4 linked regions of the Homo sapiens genome follow. The protein of the gene in region 3 purifies or fractionates together with the protein of the main gene of each other region. This does not show direct contact. Each region holds a gene or a part of one and is shown on either strand. Other genes may lie near its edges.

Region 1 (3,500 bases), on a different chromosome or scaffold from region 3:
GCTGGTGTCAAAGCTCTCTAGATGACTGCAAAGGAATGTGGAAATTTCATTCTGTTTTAGCTCATTATCTCCTGTTTACCCCACCCCACTGCCGGTTGCTAGCTATATCAATTTTTTTATTGCTTTAGTTACTCTTTCCATGCTTTCTCCTGCTTTCTGTACTTTCATTTCCTTTATAAAGTAGTTTTAACACCTAATCTATTAACTCCTAATATTTCTGCTTCATAGAAATACTTTTATCTCCGATGGTTGGATACAAGTGTTTGAGCACACCAAAACGTGCTTACAGTTGCAGTCTTGAATAGATAGGTTTGTGCATTAAACACGGGGGTGGGGAACTTGGTATCATGCTGATCTTGTCGCAGGGTTTTTGCCCATAAAATAGAAGATAGAAACAATTAAAATCTTTTTCTCAGAATCTAAATATTCTCTAGCTTTATCAATTGGTAATTTGCATTCTATCAATATGTCTATCAACTTTCTTCATTCCACCAACTTTCTTCATTTAAGGTAAAAACAAGAAAAAATGTAGTTGTCAAAACATGAATAAATTATTTACCTTTGAAAGTTTAATTGTTTATTAGAATCTTCTGGAAACAAATGTTACTTTAGCTGGTTTCTTTTTCTAAGCCCATTTTAGGTCACTAAGTAGACAATATGGGTAATCTTTATTAGCAGAGTTGTTCAAGTCATCCACATTGTTGACCACTCATCTTCTGTTTTGCTTGGGCAATGCCAAAACTGAGTCTGTAAATTACCTTATAATTTCAGGCACAGAATCAGAAGGAAAAAAATAACCTTAGGTTTGCCAGTTAAACTTTATCCATTTTCACTTTTCTGGGTGTTTTAAGGGGAAAAAAAATAATACCTTACCCAGGTAAAATTTAGCCTATCTTTCTAAAGAGGACTCTGTAGGAAAAACAGGGAAACCAATCAAATTAGGTTGTAAGAAAGGAAGTTAAGCATTGGTCAGAGGCAAATGGGACTGAAATGTGGTATCACCAAATGTTTTCCCATTGTTATTTTTGATTAAGTTTTTATCCTGCAACTGCTTAAGAGCAGTCAGTCCCTTCATAGTGTATCTGTACAGTTGCATAGGGGAGATAATTACTTCAAGATAGATTGGTGATTGGCAATGGACCCTGGACATAACTCTTTGACCAATGGATTTTGAACAAATGTAGGATAGTGAATTAATGATTAGAGATAAGTCTTATTTTAACGAGAAGCATATTTTAAAGCTATTTTATTTAAAATAGTCAATTTTCCCATTAACAAAATAATTTCAAATTGATATGTAGAGAAATAGTAGTTGGCACGTAATAATAGACTATTCCTATCTCTGACTCTGCTTTTACTTCAGAAAATAATGTCTTCAAAACTAACATATCATTTCGGCTTCGAATTCTCAAGTTTTCTTTTTAAATGTCTTACATTTGAGAGATTATTTACTTTTTTTTTTTTTTTGGTTTCTGCATTTCTCTTTTTTCTACTGCAATTTTCCACCTTTTGTGCAATTGTGAACAAGGTAACGAAACGCCTCCCTTCCTCAGGAACATCTGCTATCTTCATGCTTTCTCAAACTTCCAGCAATCACAGTTTCTCTTGGAGTGAATAAGGTGATTTCCTTTCTTAATGTACCAACTTGCTTGCATTCTCATTTGCCTGACACCATTTTCTAATTCTTTATGAAAAATTACTTCTCATGACTCATTTTATATCTTCTATTGATGCTTAGAGTATTTTGTCATTTTCTTTTAATCATGTGTTCACCTTCCAAATTGTCACACTGGAGAGGAAGTAATTTTTAAAAGCTTGGACTACGGGTCTGTAGTCTTCATTGATCCACGGTATGCAGTGGCCATGGCGTGTTAGAGCTAGTCTGTTCACCAGGACAGGAATGTTTTGCACAAATTTCTCTTTGTTTGATAATACGGCACCGGCACAACTCTCAGAGGTGTTCACCAAAAGGATGGTAAGGTTTACTAATCAAACCATATTGACTCATCTTACCATATTACTTACCAGTGCCATTCCAAAAACCCAAGTTTACTACATACTACTGTTGTCTGTTTACTTCTACCACAAAAACAATTCGAGTTGGAGACTTTCTTAGGCCTTTGAATGTATTCATTTGAATGTTATACATTTACTATATAGTGTAATCATTTGTACTTTTGGCCAGAGGAGTAGTCTATAGGAAATGATTTTTTTCTTTTACCTTTTTTTAAATATATAATCACCAGGTAGGTTAACCAATTTTCAAATGCTTTAAGTATCTTTGCCTCACTATTACAGAGAAATCTGAGCTGTAGAAGGGCATCTGACTCATTATCCGCCAGACCTTCAGTCAGACCTCTTCTTTTACGAACATTCTCAGACGAATCTAATGTATTGTAACAGGTACCTAGTGTTAAACAAATGGGCTGGCTTTAAAAAATCGGATTAACAGCATTATAAAGAAAAAATGAAAATATCACTCTCTAAATTTTCTCTGCTGTTGGTGTGGTGAACTTTACAATATTCTTTGCAAAAATATAAAGATGCATTACTTGGAATATGGGGAAATATGCATTTAAAATATTAAACATTAAAATATGATAAGCCCCCCAAATAAAATGTTAAACATTTTTCAGAGCCAAATGTTGATACAGCATATTTAATTTGTAAGGGGCAAGTTGTCATGGCAAGGCCACCATGTGAAAATGTTTGTTAATATTGATCAGGAAATATAACTTTGATTTATAAAGATCATTTGGAAAACTAAAAGTAAATATTCCAAAATTGCATCTGTATAATATCAAGCCAATTTAGCATTGCATGTTCTCTTGGGAATTATGTGAAAATAACTAAATGTGTTTGTACCTTCATGTGCTGTGTCTGTGTGTTTGCAGGTACTGTATACACTTATGTCCTTGTAAATGTCTGATCTCCAAATATATATCAATGAACCAGTCTAATCATAACTTTTTTAATGTCAAGTTTTATTCAAGCTAAATGTTTCAACTTTCAGAGGTAAAATATTTCATAGCCATTCAGGGGGATGCTTGCCTAATGATATAAAATGCTTTATAATTAATGTTTCCAAAAATGATTAAATTCACTTTATAATGTTTCATTTACCCCCAAAAATATTTGGGAGGAATTGATACGCCGTGGGAGGGCCCCTTGAACTCAGAATGACTCCTTTATGTATAGTCTGTATTTCCTTCAGTGGGGGCCTTTAACAACTCAGACCTCTGGAGGTCTTTTATCCATCCATAGGAATTTAGAGTAATTAATGAACAAGGCTTCCAAGCTTGTCAGCTTGGAAACAACTCTACACAGCTTAAAGCAGGGCCATCTTTCATGCACACATAAAAATTAATGATCATCATGAATACAATTGTGGGTTAGTTCACTTTGAAGCTAATAATTGCGAGTCCACCTTATAGGCCCATTTTTTTCAACAGCTGTCAACTCTGCCACCCTCTAGCAAAGAATACAAGTTAAATTAATGG
Region 2 (3,500 bases), on a different chromosome or scaffold from region 3:
TATTTTTAGAAGTTTCAACCTGATAGCTTCCTCATGCAGAGGTGGCTGTGACATAGTAAGAACCTTGACAATGTTTCCCAAACTTTTTTGACCACAGCTGACATTGTAACAATACATTTTATATTAAACCTGTTCACACTTCCACAATGCAACTCAGTACATATATGCATAAGTCTATATGTCTGTTGGTCTATTTATGTATGCCAGTGCTCCGTCATGGAAACAATTGTGGTAGTAAAAGATACACCCATTAGACATGCAAACAAAGCATGTCTGTGGTGAAAGACTAACATGAGATACTATATACACAACAATAAAACAAGAACCTGAGTATGGGAAAAGTGGATGATAAAAACTACCTTTTCCCCCCTTTGCATTAATCCTGTTTGACTCATTCCCATTGCCCACCTGGTTCCTGTGGTCAATGGCAAGGGTACACCTGCTATAACCTGGTTCCTTATTGACAAGGCTTTGCAACCTCAGCATTGTGGCATTTTGGGTGGGATAATTTTTTTGTTGAGGGGGCTTTCCTGTGCACTGCAGGATTTTAGCAGCATCCTTGGCCTCCACCTACTAGATGCCACTGGTATCTCCCCAGTAGTGACAACGAAAATGTCTCCAGATTTTGGCCATTGTACCCTGGGAGGCAAAATTGTGTCATTTGGGACCACAGCTTTTATTCTCTACAGCTTACGAGAACCTTGAAGCCCATATGGTAGGAAACACTTGCGACTTCTTAGAGGCAGAAGTGGTCAGAAACTGGGTGGAGGCAGAGAGTTGAATCTAGCTGTTGGGGACTAGATGGGGGGAGCAATGTGGTGTGGTAGAAGCAGCATAGCCATATCAACACTGGCCTGCATTTGAATCCTGTTTCTGCATTCGAGCTGTTCTACACTCCTTTAATATTTCTCACCCTTAAAATGGGAATAATAAATGCTTTGTCTGATTATGGTAAAAAATAAATGAGATAATACATGTAAAATAGCACAGTAAGTTCATTCATAGTCAGTCATACCATATCATTGAGCGTCTACTAAGCCAGATGCTAGTTGGTGGGGTAAAATGTAGAATGAGACTCTGTCACCCCTACCTTCATGGAACTTACATTCTGGAAGGGGGGATGGTAAATAAATGAAAATAATTGCACATTGTGAATGAGTGCACTGCAGGAAAGAAACAAGCTGAGATAGAAAAAAAAGGAAATACCCTCTTTAAGTAGGGTCAGGAAAGGTCTCTGGGGAGGTAGCCTTGAAGCTGAGACCGATAGAAAGAAAAGATGTCAGCCGAACAGAAGAGTATGACAGAGCTTAGCATGTTGAAAGAAGAGAGGGTGGAGGTGCATCAAAGTGAGATGGGCATGGGCCAGATCTTGAAAAGGAGCTTGGGTTTTATTCTCAGTGCAACAGGAAGCCATTGAGGAATGCTCAACAGGAGGAGAGTGACATGATTAAATTTTTACTTTGAGAAATCTGCTCTTGGGAAAATGGGTGGTTGCACTACAAGGACAAAAGTGGAGAGACCCATGAGGAGGCTGTTCACGGACCTAGCAAGAGGGTTGCTGGCCTAGATGAAGGCGGTGGCTGTGGAGATGGAGAGAAATTGGTCAATTTGAGTTGTATTTTGGAGGTGAAAATGATAGGACTTATGAATTGGGCTTGGATTGAGGGAAAGGAAGGAGTTATGAATACTTTGTACATTTTTGGCTTCTCTAATTGGGTAAATAATGCTGGCATTCACCAAGATAGTGAAGACTAGGGGTATGGATGAGGGAATGGGTTTGAAGGAAAAGGTCAAGAATTTCGTCTTGGACATGTTACTTTTGGGACATTTGTGAGATGTCCAAGTAGAAATGCCAATCAGTGGTGGGATATGAGAGAAAAGGTCTGAGTGGAGATGTACTACAGGGAGTCATCAGCAAATAGGTGGTTTTCACATTAATGGTAATTGAATTTGTATTCCCATTGAACTTCTATTTCCATACTTAGGGGAACAATAGCATCTTATACTGATAGGGGGCTTACTCTTTGCCAGGCTTTGTTGGAAGTGCTTTAGATGAACTCATTTAACTGTTTACTCAGTCCTCACCATGACACTATGATTACTGTGCTTGTTTTACCACGTGGGGGGAATCTGAGGCACAAAGATATTAAGTAACTTGTCCAAGGTCACCCCTAGAATGTAGAAGGGCCAGGATTTGACCCAGGCAATGTGTTTCCTAAGTTCATGCTCTTAACTAGTATGCTATATTTCATCTCCTCTAAGGGGACAGTACAGCAAAAGAAATGAAACCCTAGAGTCCAATTCTGAGAAACCCTAACATTTTGTGCTCAATAAATGTTAGTTTTCTTGTTTCTTCCTTCCCCAGGAAAAAGAAGGAAAAGAGGGTCATACTTAGAGATACAGGAACAACAAGTAGAAAGAGCATATTAGGGGTGGCATAAGGGCCAAGAAAAGCTAAGGAAGCATGAGGCACAGGGACACAGGCCATCTTGGTGTGCTTGCTTTCAAACAGACACATAGACCCAACTGAGCACCAGCTGTGAGAGTGTGTTTATGTTAATTCATAGAGGTTATGCCAATGGGAATTTGGGATTTTAAAGAATTTCTTTAATGTTTACAGCCATTTTTTTTTCTTTCTAAGATAGACTTCTGGCTAACTCTAAAGAATGTTTATAATCACCTAAACATATTTTATTATTAACAGATACAGTTAGAAGTTTTCTGAATATGTGATGCTCATTAGCATCCAAATAACAAATTTGATAAGTTTAGTTTATGTAAATATAAGCATATGTTATCTATTTGTGATTGATTTTTGGCCAATAATATGGCATCAATACTGAAAGCACATACAGTTTTATTTATGTACATATGGGTATTTGGATGTTGCTAATATTTGAACCGTGGCTGTTATGCATTGTAAATACTTATCCTATTAGGCTGTATTAATTTCTCTTAATGAGTGTGTTAGGTATATTAATGTTTCTTAAAGTTCATGCTAATGAGGCAAGTTGTTACTTAGTAACCCCGAGGGATTGGTTCAAGGACCTCCCTCCGATATCAAAATCTGCAGATTCTCAAGTCCCTAGTATAAAATGGCATAGTATTAGCCTATAACATACACACATACTCCTGGATACTTTAAATCATGCCTAGATTACTTAGAATACCTAATAGAATGTAAATGTTACTTATATATTTGTTACACTGTATTGTTTAGGGAATAATATCTGCATGTGTTCAGTACAGATGGATTTTTTTTCCGCCTACTATTTTCAATCTGAGGTTGGTTGAATCTGCAGATGTGGAACTGACAGATATGGAGGACTGACTAAATCTACATTGTCATAGAGACCATAAACCTGTGTACATAGTTCCAAATGGGGTAGCTTTAGGCTTTATTATTCATATGTTTAATCCTAAATTCCTGTTTTGCTAGTTCTTTTGCCATCAGCTTGTACTTCAGCCAAACCATTGAGACATTACTCTTCCAGGGGAAG
Region 3 (4,078 bases):
AGTGATCAAGACCTCCCCATCTCCACCCCTCAAGGAATCGGTTTTCTTCCATAGCCACATCAGGTGCTGTGCAGGAAGGAGTTGAAACGAGAAGCCAGGAGCAACGAGAAGGACACTAACATTTATTAAGCACTGCAGACTCTCACAGCACTCCCACGGAATCGATATTATTATCCCCATTCTGAAGACCAGGCAACTGAAGCTCAATGTTTAAGGAACTCACCGAAGTCACCAACTGATAAAAGTGATGGAAGCTGGGATTCAAATCCAAGCTAAACTTCCTTCCAAGCTTACTCCACAACACAGAGGTTGGGGAAAGGGGATAAAAAGAGAGGGGAGCCCAATTCCATTTCCACCCAGCTCCTGAGGCGGAGCTTGTCAGCACAGCTCTCTCCTTCCCAGAATAGGAAGATACCCATCAGAGGCAAGTCCTAGACACCAGCAGTGGTAACTCCCTGCCCCAAGGCAGCTGCAGACAGCCTATGGCTGTAGTTACTGCTCCCAAAGAGTGTTAGAATTCCCACTCCCAGCTTCGGGGCCACTCACACAAGGTGATTGAAGTGGAAACCAGAGACTCTCCACAATGCCCTCCTAGAGTAAATGAGGCTATGTAACTTTGTCCAAATGAGTAATTTGAAAACCTGGGGGCTCCCAGCTCCTGAAAAGGGAAGGATGTGGGGCCCTTTATATTCATACTCCACTTTGTGCAGCTCTCCCTTGTCTTATGATAGCCCTATTAAGAAATTCCTCTCCCAGCACGTCTCCTTCAAAGAGCTCTAGACCTGAGGCTGTCAGAGGCTTAGGACTCTGCCTATTAGTCCCAGGGTCTGGATGACCAGCAGGACACCTGGCATTCAGTGACCACTGGATTAGATAAATGAAACAGTGGGCAGAGTGCCACCCAATCTCCCCCTGAAGTTTGAAGAGGTCGAGAAGTGAGGCTGTCCAACTGCTGACCCTGCTTTCTGTCCACCTGGCCACCTAACCTTTTCTGGCTTCCACCTGCCCCTTTGCCATCCCTCCCCCCAGCCCACCCAGCCCATTTTCAGGCATACCTGGGCACGTGCTGGAATAGAAGCCCTCGTTCTTCAGAATGATCAACAGGGAGCCCCAGCCCAGGAGTACAGCAGAGAAGAAGAGGTTCTCCAGCACAGCCGTGCAGGCCATCCACCAGCGCCTCCGGTACGCCTGTTGCAGCGTGGGGGCCATGCTGGCCCCGAGCCTGCACAGAAACAGAGCGCTGGGTGAAGGGCCCCCCAGTGGCCCCAGGGAAGGGTCCTGCATCATGGTGGCACCCGAGACCTCTCGGGCCAGCCCGCGAGGAGCCCCTCATGGAGGCCCCATAGAGCCCTGGGCTTCCCAGCCGGTGCCAAGGAGCTGGCTCCGCGCGCACTAGCAGTGCCAGAGGTGCACGCGGCACGGGGCTCCCGCTGAGCCACTATCGGAAACAAGGAAGGTCCTGTCTGCGCGCTGCAGCTTCCTAGCAGGCTGCCGGGTTCTCTCACCCAGGCCAGGGCGCTCAGGGCCGGGCTGCTGGGGAGAAAGTCCGCATCTGCCCAGGTCCCCAGAGGACAGCAAGGGGCAGAGCGCGCTCTGAAGCACCGCGGGCCCATGTCCGGACTCTCGCGCCAGGAAAGACCCCTAGAAGCTGGCAGGAAGAAGGGCAAGTTCAAGGCTACCCTACGACCCCATCTTCCAGTTGCCCCTCCAAGACCTCTCCTTCCCTCTGGGGCCGGGCGACAGCAAGCCCTCCCCCTTTCCGTATCAGGTGACCCACGACCCTACAGTCTCTCGGGCCAAGCCAACAGCTGCCACGTGGAGGGAGACCCAGGACGGGCTCTCCTCGGTTCCCTCCTCCCCCGCGCGCCCCTCACTCACTCCGCAGGGCTCGGGGCACCAGGCTTTGCACCTCGGAACCCGCTTGCCCCCCTCCAGCCCCGGGAGGGGGCTCGGACTTCGGCAGGAAGTCTGGCGGCTGCTGACTTTATAAGGGCAGCGGTGGCGGATGGGCTGGCGGGCGGGTGTGTTTACCAAAGGGAGGGAAAGAGCCCCAGCTCCCCCCGCCGCGGCCGCTGCAGCCTCGGCGGGAGGAGAGGGAACGCGGGCGGCGCGGGGGCGGGGAGCGACAACTGGGATGAGACCGAGGAAAGCGGAGAGGAGAAGGGCAAGAAAGACCCAGAGAGAGGGGAGGAAGTACCAGTCACTTCTTCCAGGGGGACTCGGTATTCTCATCTGTGAAACGGGGCTTTGGGTTCAAGCGCTCCAGGAGGTCCGCTGGAACTCTGGCAAACGCGCAGCTCTAAGCAGAGGAAGTGCAGCGAGCGGGGACCCGGGAGGAAGAGAAGAGTCGGAGGGGTCAGAGAAAAGAAAAGGGAAGGACGCGCTTGGCGAGATGGGACACTGTGCCGCGGGACCGCGGGCGCAAGTAACGGTCTTTCCTTGGGAAGCCTGGCAGTGTCGGCGGGAGCCGGCCTCGGTGTCTCTCAGCCGACGCATAGCCGGAGACCCTACGCGCGCCCCCTCCCCGCCCACGCTGCTCACCTCCGGTCACCGGCAAATGAGCAGCCAGCAGCTGCGGACGCCTCCGGGAGCGCAACGCTTTCGCGGCGCGTCCGGAGTCCCGTGGGCCCAGCCCTGAGCCGCGCCGGCGCTGGGGTCTTCTCTGCGTGCAGGACCCGGCGGCCACGGAGCTTCAGCCTGACAGCCCGGTGGCCTCGCCTCCGCTGTCTCCTCGGAAGAAGCGGGGGAACTGGGAACCCGCCGGGCGCCAGAGGTCTGCGAAGCTGGGCTTGGATGAAGTGGATCTGCGGAGTTGATAGTTGTATTTACACGCGTCCGGAGCTGCGCCCCGAGGTGGGGGCGGGGGCTCCCTTCTTTTCCCCTCCCCTTAGGTCGAGTTTCACGCGCACGTGACTCGCCCGCTGGTCCCGGACACTCTCCCTCTGGCACAGCCCCAGCACCTACATTTCCACCCTGGACCCCCATCTTCTCCCCCAAGCCCCCAGACTAACATCAGGCAGCGCCCTCTGTATCCTTGTTCAAAACAAAGTGCGATTCGGCTGAAGCCGACTGACCGCGATTCAGGGCCGCCTTGGGTGGGGTTTTGAACTGTGCAGCTGGAAGCAGTGTTTTCCGAGAGGCAGAGTGGCACGGGTTTCTTTGGAGTTAGTCAGATCGAGGTCTGAGTCTTGACTTTTTAACTGACTACCCTGGGTTACCTAGGGCAAGTTACCTCTCTGAGCCTCAGCTTCCTCCTCTTTAAATTCGGTTAAAATGGAACCTACCTAACTGCCCAAAGGAATCGCGATTGTGATGCAGGTAAAATGCTAAGCATAGCATTTGGCATAGTAAGCATAATGTTAATTGTTGCTGCTGTCATTATTTCAGAAGACCTGGTGATCGGATGCTTCCAGATCAACAATTGATTGACTCCAGGTAAATCTCTCAGCCTCCCTGAGCCTCAGTATCCTCATCTGTAAAATAGACTACTATGGTGTGGAGTAATGAGAAGTAATCTCATTACATGTGAGTTTAATTGTGTGTTAAGAGTGCTGCTAATGCATGCTGAGCTTAATACCTAGGTGATGGGTTGATAGGTGCAATAAACCACCACGGCATACATTTACCTACGTAACAAACCTGCACATTCTGCACATGTACCCCAGAACTTAAAATAAAAATAAAATTTTTTTAAAAAAAGAGTGATACTGGTGGCCAGGTGTGGTGGTTCATGCCTGTAATCCCAGAACTTTGGGAGGCCAAGGCAGGAGGATCGCTTGAGCTCAGGAGTTCGAGACCAACCTGGACAACATGGTGAAACCCCGTCTCTACAAAAAAGAAAAAAAAATAGCCAGGCATGGTGGTGTGCACCTGCAGTCTCAGCTACCCAGCAGGCTGAAGTGGGAGGATCACTGAGCTGGAGAGATGGAGGCTGCAGTGAGCCAAGATCATGCCACTACACTCCAGCCTGGGTGACAGAGTAAGACTCTGTCTCAAAAACAAAACAAGAATGACTACAGAAAGCTCCAAGAAGGCCTCAGATAAAAGGGAACCCCTGAACAGATGAGCCACCAAGCCA
Region 4 (3,400 bases), on a different chromosome or scaffold from region 3:
TATTTGTGTAGGATAGTGAATGATAAGCTTTTTTCCTAACCAGTAGTGAGTAAAGTTCTTGAACAAAATTTAGTAGCCAAATTGTTTTTTAATGACATGTCTCTTTAGTACAATAGTTTTGTGTATCTTTTAGATACATTAATAGGCACTAGATGGAAAATTAAAGAGTTAAACATATTTAAATGAGAGAATCTAATGTTTCAGAAATTTGTAAGAAATGTATCACAGCAAAGGGTTGTTATAAGTCCTTAGTTTTTGACTCTAATAGTTAATACAATTATAGTTAATCTTAAGCCATAATGTTTCTAATCATGTCACACAGCTGTCCTAGAACTTATCTATTTAAAATAGTTTCCTGAGTTAATTTTGGCCAGCAGGGCAACTGCCCTAATTCAGATAGATTTACAGTAACCTACGTACAGTAGATGCACATACACACAGACACCCCTTTGCTGGAGAAACTTAGGACCCTGTCAGCCTTTTAAAGGAAACAGCAGGAGTGGTGTCCTAAATGATGTTCATGCAGCTGCTTTACCATGTTCACAGTCAAGCCCATGCATGCCAGGTTAAAACTGTGGAAATCAAAAGTAAATTCACTCATATTTTAATCATTTTAACTGAGATTTAAAATTAGAAGTTTAAACCACTATATATAAAGAACTAATCTTTTCTTAATACCAGTTCTTTCCATAGCATATGCTTTGCAAAGGCAGCATGCATAAAATATTTAAAATGAGAGGACAGAATGTTTTCACATTTGATTCAATTTTAATATAATTCCTAATTGTGGTAACACAGTTGAGATATGTATTATGAGTTATGGGAACTAATTGAGAAAAGGAAGTTACTCTAATCCACGTATGTTAAGAGAATATTGAGTTTTCTTAGTTGTAAAGTTGGGGAGATGGCACCTTCTCAGAGGATTGTGAAAATATGAGGAAGAAACAAAACAGTGCATGTAGGAGCACAGGGCCACACAAAGGCATTCTATTGTTATGCTCATTCTGCTTCTGTAATGACTTTTCATAGGTCATTCTTGTGAACCATTTTGTTTTGCAAGCAACCAAGGAAAGAACATCTTAAGTGGAAAATCAGTGGTGGTTGTGAACACTTAGAGAATAGCAATCCACAGGCAAGAATAATGGTATTGTTTGTAGAGCTTTATTAATTGGATATTTTTTAAAAGACATTTTCATTCACAGGTCATTACTATGGTTCTCAGCGATCCAAATATGTAGATCATTGGTTTTTTTTTTTACCTGAAGTAGCTTAAGAGTACTTGGATCAGTAGAATAAATATTTATTGAATCAATCAGTCAGCCAATTAATATGATGTTAGTGATAGACCTGCCTCCTTTTATGGAAGAGGTAACAGATCCAGAGAGGTCAAGTAATTTAGTTGTAGACTGAAAAATATATCAAAGCCTTTGCTGCAATCATATGTAACAAAAAGAACCAAAACAAACACTTTTTAGTGGCACCTGTGGATTTACAAAGGGTTGCCTCTCTGTCATTCCACAACTTCAGAAGGTGTGACAGGTTTTCCCTATTTATCATTACCAATAATAACAAGTATTGAGAGTTTTAAAATTTCTCCCAGAAGATAAACTAACAAGGATGGAAGGGGAGGGCAAAGGATATCTAAACATGAGAATAAGGACATGTTAGAGGGGGGGAAACAGTTGTAACAATAAGGAAAGAGAAGAGCAACAGTGGAAGAGACAGGTTGTGTGCCCCTAAAGATTCTGCACCCCCAGTTTGGAAACACTGATACATTTTAGGACACAGAGCACTCCTAGATCTCTACGAAATTTTAGAATGAATAATGTGTAATTTATAGGATCAGAACGTATGGTTATTAAAACTTGGATCAAGATATGCCCGGTGTATACATTCTTAGCACATAGGAATGGCACTGCCATACTGGAGAAGGTCAGCAGTAAATAGGCATTCTGTACATAAGCCTCATGGAAGGGTAAGATGGAGAGACTGGCAGAAGTAGCACCTACTCTGCTGGGAGCACTTCTCTGAGTACGCTTTAGTTCAATTCAAATCACTGTATTCTTTCCCCATTGCTAACCTAATATATGAAACAAGCTTAGCTGTCTCAGAAGTTTTTCAAGAGATGATCAGGAAAAATTAATGCACATTCAAAAGGAGAATCTTCAGTACAAATTTGTTTTTTTAAAAATAGATTTAGGGCTGGGCGCGGTGGCTCACGCCTGTAATCCCAGCACTTTGGGAGGCCGAGGCGGGTGGATCACGAGGTCAAGACTTCGAGACCAGCCTGGCCAACATGGTGAAACCCTGTCTCTACTAAAAATACAAAACATTAGCCAGGCGTGGTAGTGGGTGCCTGTAATCCCTGCTACTTGGGAGGCTGAGGCAGGAGAATCACTTGAACGCGGGAGGCAGAGGTTGCAGGGAGCCGAGATGGCGCCATTGCACTCCATCCTGGGCAACAAGAGCGAAATTCCATCTCAAAAAATAAAATAGATTTAGGGGGTACAAGTGCAGTTTTGTTACATGGGTATATTGCATAGTGGTAAAATGTGGGCTTTTAGTGTACCTAACACCCAGAGAAGCATACATTGTGCCCAGTAGGTAATTTTTCATCCCTAAACCTTTTCTCAGCCTCCCACTTTCTGGAGTCTCCAATGTCGGTTATTCCACTCTTTATGTCCATATCTACACATTCAATCCTAATTTGTACCAAGTAGCATCTCACCTTTAAATCACAGGCTTATTAGTTGGGTGTTTTCTTTTTACTTATGAAAATTCATCTAGTCAAACTGTCAATTAATTTTTCCTCATTTCATTAAAAGTGTATATCTAATGCTTTCTCTAAAAATTGATGTACTGGAAATACAAATAAATAAATGCTCCCTGTGTAGAATTTCCACTTGCATCTTGTGCTTTTAATACCATTACAGGGTGTCATGAACAGGTTGTAAATGTTGCACTTATTGCCGTGTTTCAGATGGAATAAGTTGGCGAATTCTGGGCTCCTGAAGCTTGATCCAGTCGCTAGGGCTGGAAGCACTGTGTTAGGTGGCTGCAGGAAGAAGCAAGGAACTCAAGGTGATTGAAACTTCTTTGGACATAGGCCCCAAATTTCCTATGTGATCTCCATCCAGGAAACAGGCAGGATTCTGTGTGAGTGACAGCTACTCATTTTGTAGAGATTAGAGACACACCAAATTTTGGCTGCCTTTCTCCAGACCGTTACTAATCTGTGAGAAGACACAGGATGTAAAAACTGGGGACCAAAAGAAGGCTCCTTCTCCCTAAGGCCTTGAATATAGCTGGTCCATTCCCTGTGTCAAGAACCTACCATGATCCTGCTGGGTCCTCTGAGAGTGGAAGGAGACTCTGTCCATCTCACCTCATCAGCTCTTCC

Evidence for each region.
Region 1: the proteins of SLC43A1 (region 3) and ATP11C purify together in Homo sapiens (affinity purification with mass spectrometry; one large-scale study listed by BioGRID and IntAct). This does not show direct contact.
Region 2: the proteins of SLC43A1 (region 3) and DPY19L1 purify together in Homo sapiens (affinity purification with mass spectrometry; one large-scale study listed by BioGRID and IntAct). This does not show direct contact.
Region 4: the proteins of SLC43A1 (region 3) and MYO6 purify together in Homo sapiens (affinity purification with mass spectrometry; one large-scale study listed by BioGRID and IntAct). This does not show direct contact.

The regions. Positions count from the first base shown.
Region 1 is NC_000023.11:139,730,554-139,734,053, reverse strand, and holds part of ATP11C (phospholipid-transporting ATPase IG), read left to right. Parts: intron 1-1,528; coding exon of another isoform or gene 1,529-1,618; exon of another isoform or gene 1,619-1,619; intron 1,620-2,298; coding exon 2,299-2,400; 3' UTR 2,401-2,403; intron 2,404-3,500. UniProt on the Homo sapiens protein: Catalytic component of a P4-ATPase flippase complex which catalyzes the hydrolysis of ATP coupled to the transport of aminophospholipids, phosphatidylserines (PS) and phosphatidylethanolamines (PE), from the outer to the inner leaflet of the plasma membrane.
Region 2 is NC_000007.14:35,030,986-35,034,485, reverse strand, and holds part of DPY19L1 (protein C-mannosyl-transferase DPY19L1), read left to right. Parts: intron 1-3,500. UniProt on the Homo sapiens protein: C-mannosyltransferase that mediates the C-mannosylation tryptophan residues on target proteins.
Region 3 is NC_000011.10:57,512,903-57,516,980, forward strand, and holds the start of SLC43A1 (large neutral amino acids transporter small subunit 3), read right to left. Parts: upstream 2,801-4,078; 5' UTR 2,542-2,800; intron 2,300-2,541; exon of another isoform or gene 2,233-2,299; coding exon of another isoform or gene 2,198-2,232; intron 2,008-2,197; exon of another isoform or gene 1,879-2,007; intron 1,223-1,878; coding exon of another isoform or gene 1,210-1,222; coding exon 1,056-1,209; intron 1-1,055. UniProt on the Homo sapiens protein: Uniport that mediates the transport of neutral amino acids such as L-leucine, L-isoleucine, L-valine, and L-phenylalanine. The transport activity is sodium ions-independent, electroneutral and mediated by a facilitated diffusion.
Region 4 is NC_000006.12:75,916,638-75,920,037, forward strand, and holds the end of MYO6 (unconventional myosin-VI), read left to right. Parts: 3' UTR 1-2,900; downstream 2,901-3,400. UniProt on the Homo sapiens protein: Myosins are actin-based motor molecules with ATPase activity. Unconventional myosins serve in intracellular movements. Myosin 6 is a reverse-direction motor protein that moves towards the minus-end of actin filaments.